Linked DNA regions of Homo sapiens. The protein of the gene in region 2 purifies or fractionates together with the protein of the main gene of each other region. This does not show direct contact. Each region holds a gene or a part of one and is shown on either strand. Other genes may lie near its edges.

Region 1 (3,829 bases), on a different chromosome or scaffold from region 2:
ATTACCTGAACTTCTTGGAGGCTAATCTGACTACTTTTGTGTCTGTGACTCTTACTCAAGGTGGATTGCTTCCTTGTGTGTTTGTAATTTTGGATTGTGAGTTTCTATCTGGTGGGACTCTACCTATGAGGATCCTCTATGACCTATTTTGAGGCTGTTGTCCCTCCAGAGGAATTTTGTGATTGCTTCTGCCAGACATCTCAATGTTTATGTTAATTCTTCTGCTCAGGGATTCCCAGACCATGAGGCCAAAGTAAATCCTAATCCCACACACAGGAATGGCATGGACCTGTGATTTTGAGTTTTCAGGGGCATAAGTTTTCATCTCCACACTCAAATACCGACCCAAGAAAGAAAAGCTTCCTTGCCACTTTCCTTTTCTCATTAGCTGATACTTTTCCTCTTACCCACCATAATTTATCCTTTAAAGTTTCCAGCTTTATGCAGGATCAATAGAGTCTTACTTCCAAATCCCCACCTGTGTGGATGGGACTTTCCTGTCATCCAAGCCCCTAGTTACAAAGTTGACCCTACATCTCCCATAAGCAGTGTCAACTCCTGTGCTTAACCAGTCCATTTGTGCTGCTATAACAGGATGCCACAGACAGAGTAATAATAAAGAACACAAATTTATTTCGAACAGTTCTGAAGACTGGGAAGTTCAAGATCAAGGCACCACCATTTGGTGTCTGGTGAGGGCCTTCTTGCTGCCTCCTAGCATGGTAGAAAGCAAAAGAGTAGAAGGCTGTAGCCAAATACTTCATGAATCCTCTTTTATAAGGACCCTAATCTCATTAAAAAGGGAGGACCTTTCATGATCTAATCACCCCCGAAGGCCCCACCTCTTAATACCATCACATTGGCAGCACCTGAATTTTGGAGGAGACACATTCAAACCATAGCAACCAGTCAGACCTTCATTCCTGGAATGCAAAATTTTCTTTCTTTCCTGCAAAGCCAGCTATTAAATTGAATGTCTGTCACATTTTATACACCATATAAAAGTGTTTACAGTGGGAATTTCTTGTGTTATCTAGTCTACTGTATTTTCTGACCATTAAAGCTGAAGTCATTTTAAAATTTGATATATTATTCACAATTGCAGGGTAAATGTTGTCCAGACTCAGAGTTTAAGAAACACTTTCCTGTTGGAAATCCAGAAATTCTTCCTTCATCTCTTCCAAGTCAAGCTGCTGAAAATCAAACTTCCACGATGGAGAAAGATGTTCGTCCAAAGACAAGAAGTATAAACAGATTTCCTCTTCATTCTGAAAGTTCATCAAAGAAAGCACCAAGAAGCAAAAACAAAACCTTGGATCCACTTTTGATGTCAGAGCCCAAGCCCAGGACCAGCTCCCCTAGAGGAGATAAAGCAGCCTATGACATTCTGAGGAGATGTTCTCAGTGTGGCATCCTGCTTCCCCTGCCGATCCTAAATCAACATCAGGTACTCAGCCTCTGTTCTCTGCTTACCTTTCTGGGAACCATCCGCACAGTGTCTTAAAAAAATCCAAGACCTGAAAGATGTTCACAAATGTTGTGGCTGAAAAGGCCGTTTTCTCTGACTCCCACTTCTCTGGGTGCCCAAATGCACTATCTCGTAGCACTTACCACCTGGTTTATTTGCATCACCTCCGAGAGACTGAGTCACCTTTGACTCAAGCCAGGTCTTTGAAGGTAGAGCCAGGTCCCTCTTCTCTGTGTCTCCAGCTTCTAGGCCAGGGATTGATTTGGAGCAACTGCTTCAAAACTGTTGAGTAAATGAATGAATCAGAGGATACCCAGTCTATCTCTCTCATGGTGTAGATATGGCACTGAGGCCCAGAGATGAGATGTCTTGGTCAAGATCCTAAGCCAGTTGGTGGTGGCTTACCTCCAGCAGATCAAGGTTTGCTTCAAGAAGATCAGGGTTTGTAGGCATCTCCCTGAATATCATGATTTTTATGTCCTAGGTTATTTTCTAGTAATAATAATAACTGGCATTAGAGGTTGTTAACCATTGTGTGCCAGTTACAATACAGAGCTCTTTATAATCTTCATCATAAACAATAGGCATGCATTTTATCTCCATTTTACAGATAAGGTGAAGTAGCTTTCCAAGGAGTATACAATTAGAAGGTGGCAGGATCCAGCCTGAGTCCACATGTATATAGCTCCAAAGTTTATGCTCTTAAGCTCCAGATTAAATGCCTTACTTAAAAAATTTATTTTTTTTCAAAATACATAAGTACTAGATTTTGTTGGAGCTAGTTGATATAATATCATATAAAGAAGTATAAAAGCAAAGCTAACCCTAATTCCCCAACCCCATACCCTGAGATACCACTTTGGACAGTCTTATGGGCATCTTTTCAAAGCTCTACCTTTGCATATACAAGCCTAAACAAGCATATACTGGGTTTTACTTGTTTCTTTTTCCACACATATTATCTTACTATACTTTTTACTCTGCCACATGCCTTTTTCACTTAGTATATGATGCATGCTTCTTACAAAAGACTTAGTATGCCAAAACCTTTTTTTCTAACTTCCTTGTGCATCTATGTATGCACATAAGCATATAATTTTACAAAAATGGGTTCATTTCATATTTGCTGGGGGTGTTACTAGTGCCATTTTTCCTTGCCTCCCACAATTTGGTATATTTCCTTTCACAGTTTTCTCCATCCTTATATAACAGAGTCGCCAGATTTAGCAAATAAAAATACAGGACATTCAGTCAAATTTGAATTTCAGAGAAACAAAGAATTGTTTTTAGTGTAGGTATATTCCATGCAATGATTGTTTTGCTAAAATTAAAATTTAACCAGGACACCCTGTATTTTATTTAGCAATTTCTTATATAACCACCATACAAACATACACATTTGGAGTCCTGTTATATACATTTTTTCACTTTTTTTTTTTTGAACCAGTAAAGCTGCCATCTTTTTTTTTTTTTTTTTTTTTTTGAGACAGAGTCTCGCTCTGTCACCCAGGCTGGAATGCAGTGGTGGGATCTCGGCTCACTGCGATCTCTGCCTCCCGGGTTCAAGCGATTCTCCTGCCTCAGCCTCCTGAGTAGCTGGGAGTACAGGCACCCGCCACCACACCCAGCTAATTTTTGCATTTTAGTACAGATGGGGTTTCACCATGTTGTCCATGCTGGTCTTGAAATCCTGACCTCAGGTGATCCACCCGCTTCAGACTCCCAAAGTGCTGGAATTATAGGGCATGAGCCACCACGCCCAGCAACATTTCTTTACATCCTAATGTAAATTCAGCAATACCCAAGGAAATCCCTACAAACAAAACAGTGTGGCTTATTTTTATTAATGGCTGCCTAAGATTCCATGGTGTGAGTGTTCTCCCATCTGTCCCTCCACCCAGTGATAGCAACAGGCCCCTGTTAAACTTTGTCGCAAGCCTCCTATACTTCTGGCTCAGTGGGCTCCTGACCTTTTCTATGCCATTACACTCCAGTCTTTGGGCAGGGCTCATGCTCTGTAACAAGGGACAGCAATATCCAGAGATATTCTAGGAGCTAGCACTTCTTACTTTAACCATATCAAACTTTTTTTATATCCATTTCTTAGGAGAAATGCCGGTGGTTAGCTTCATCAAAAGGAAAACAAGTGAGAAATTTCAGCTAGATTTGGAAAAGGAAAGGTACTACAAATTCAAAAGATTTCACTTTTAACACTGGCATTCCTGCCTACTTGCTGTGGTGGTCTTGTGAAAGGTGATGGGTTTTATTCGTTGGGCTTTAAAAGAAAAGGTTTGGCAGAACTAAAAACAAAACTCACGTATCATCTCAATAGATACAGAAAAGGCTTTTGATAAAATTCAA
Region 2 (2,932 bases):
TTCTTTCTTTGGGCTCTCCTTGTGTTTTTTTATGATTAGACTCAGGTTGTGTATTTTTGGTAAGAATAGCACAATAATGATATTGTGTGCCTCTCCAGTGCACCATATCAAGAGGCACATGGCATCAATGGATCTTATTTCTGGTGATACTCACTTTGGGCAATGGTTTAGAGGGGAAGGGCTATAAAGTTACATTTTTCTCTCTGTAATTAATACCCCTTGGTGTCCTAAGGAAAGATACTTTGAAACAATGTAAAATCATTTCTTATCCAAAAAAAAGTGTTTAATGACAGGATTCTATTCTGTCAAGAGCACTTTCACAAGATAGGTGACTCAGTGTAACACTGTGCACCAAAAGTCTTTATACTCTAACACTAAATTCACTCTAGGAAATAAGCCTAAAAGAAAGTCAGAAGCATGGTTAAAAATGTCTATTCAAGAATATTAACTACAGTGTTATTTATGGTGGTAAAAAATTAGTACCTCCACAAAAAGAAATACTATTCAAGTTATGAAAATGAACTTTTTAAAGAGAGAGGCCAGGTAGAATAATCTGCAACTAACAGGTCCTGTGAACTTTCCTTCAACCTATTCTGCTCCTTCAGTTTGGACTCAACAGTCATTCTAAACCCAAGTATCAATACAAAGACTCAGCCTCTATTTCTCATTTAGTCTCAATGTCCTAATCCACAGCCTCTTCATGGCCTTCCTCATTTCAGCATTTCTCAGAGAGTAGATGACAGGGTTCAGGATCGCGGTTATCACTGTGTAGAACACAGCCACCATCTTGTCTATGGGCAGAGTGGTAGAAGGCCTCAGAGAGTTGAAGACGCAGGGCCCAAAGAACAAGATAACCACAGCGAAATGGGACCCACAGGTGGAGAGGGCTTTGCACCACCCTTCAGAGCTCCAGGTTCTCAGATGGAGCAAGATGACCATATAGGATGCTAAGAGGACCCCAAAACTGATCACAGACAGGGTGCCTCCATTGGCAACAATCAGCAGACCAATGAGGAAGGTGTCAGAGCAGGCAAGTTTGAGAAGGGGAACTAGGTCACAGAAATAGTGATTGATCACATTGGGGCCACAGAAGAGCAGGTGGAAGATGAGAAGGATTTGTGCAAAGGAATGCATGAAGCCTCCCACCCATGCTATTCCTACAAGGACAGTACACACCTGCCAGTTCATGATGGTGGTGTAGCTGAGGGGCTTGCAGATGGCCACATAGTGGTCATAGGCCATCACAGTGAGCAGGAAAATCTCAGTGCCACCAAAGAAGTGCAAGAAGAAAAGCTGTGCCATGCAGCCCCACCAAGATATGACTTTCCTTTCAGCCAGCAGATCTGAGATGAGTTTGGGGGCTGTAGCGGAGGAGTAGCAGATCTCCATGAAGGAGAGGTAGCTGAGGAAGAAGTACATGGGGGAACCAAGGCTTCTGCTGGTCATGACAGTGAGCACAATGAGGAAATTCCCCAGCACAATTGCTGTGTACAAGAACAGAAATATCACAAAGCAAACCCTCTGCACCTCCTGGTTGGGAGAAAGTACCAGAAAAATGAATTCAGTCATGTTGTGTATGTTAGCCAAGAGGTCATCATCAAGAGGCAGCAATTTGGGTGGTGTGATCTGAAATGATACAAAATACTTCTTCACTCAGTGGGTGAATTACATGAAAGCCCTTGCATAGCTGAGATGCTTCTGAGTTGGAAATTGAAAGGTGAGTAGGAGTTAGTTATGTGTAGAAGGGAAGAGCATTCCAAGAAGGCAGAGAGCAAGTACAAATGCTTTGTGTGTGGCTGGAATAAAGGGGAGAATAGCAAAAAAATAAAGCTGTAGATAGACATTAGTACCAATTTGTGAAGGACTGTTAGGGCCTTTGAGGACCCTAGCAGTCCCAAAGTGTTTTTCCTTTTAGTTGATGAACATGCTTGATGATTCCCCATTGTCTGCAGGATCAGACAAAGTCTGTAGTATGTAGAACTAAAGTGTGGAAAGGGCTGTCCAGTGGAAACAGATTAGAGGAGGAGCTCTATTAGGAAGTTAATAAGTCCCTCATTGGATGATGTGGAACAGCCAGGATAGTGTTACTGTCTCCATGTTAGATGAGTGTTTTAAATTATCTTGTGCCTACAGCTTTCCTTCATGCCACTTCCTTCTCCTTTTTTTTTTTTTTTTTTTTTTTTTTTTTTTTTTTCAGACAGGGGCTCACTTTGTCACCCAGGCTGGAGTGCAGTGGTGTGATCTTGGCTCACTGCAGCCTTGACTTCCCCCAGCTCAAATGATCCTCCCACCTCAGCCTCCTGAGTAACTAGGACTACAGGCATGTGCCACCATGCTCTGCTAATTTTTATATTTTTTGTAGAGATAGGGTTTCACCATGTTGCCCAGGCTGGTCTAAAGCTCCTGAGCTCAAGCAAGCCACCCACTTCAGCCTCCCGAAGTGCTGTGATTATAGGCATGAGCCACTGCTCCTGGCCTTCTTTTCTATCCTTGGTTTGCAGAACAGTGTCCTCAACCTCTCCACATACCATTCAGAGTCTTTAGAAGAGATATCCCTAGTGGACCTCCTTTGACAATCAACATCTCCTCTTATTTCTGCTTCTCCCTCTAATTCTCACATTCTACACTTGGTCACTTGGTGAGCTTGTCCCCTTCCAAGGGCCCAGCTCAACTTAATCCATGTATGATTCTCCTCTTTACTGGGGCTTTCACTTTCTCCAGTCACATCCTCCAGTGGCAACAAAGGTCCAACACCCCCCATACACACACACACACACACACACACACACACACACACACACACATCCCAGTGCCCCCTCATGCTCTGACACATCCTTCTCCACAGCCCAGGCTTTCAACACCTCAGAGCATCACCAAGACTGCTCAGGACTGATTGGCAGGCTGTCCCAGTCCATGCTGAACTCTGTCCAAG

The links.
Region 1: the proteins of OR4X2 (region 2) and XAF1 purify together in Homo sapiens (affinity purification with mass spectrometry; one large-scale study listed by BioGRID and IntAct). This does not show direct contact.

Annotation. Positions count from the first base shown.
Region 1 is NC_000017.11:6,769,538-6,773,366, forward strand, and holds part of XAF1 (XIAP-associated factor 1), read left to right. Parts: intron 1-1,105; coding exon 1,106-1,447; coding exon of another isoform or gene 1,448-1,504; exon of another isoform or gene 1,505-2,812; intron 2,813-3,575; coding exon 3,576-3,632; 3' UTR 3,633-3,829. UniProt on the Homo sapiens protein: Seems to function as a negative regulator of members of the IAP (inhibitor of apoptosis protein) family. Inhibits anti-caspase activity of BIRC4. Induces cleavage and inactivation of BIRC4 independent of caspase activation.
Region 2 is NC_000011.10:48,243,741-48,246,672, reverse strand, and holds OR4X2 (olfactory receptor 4X2), read right to left. Parts: upstream 1,570-2,932; coding exon 658-1,569; downstream 1-657. UniProt on the Homo sapiens protein: Odorant receptor.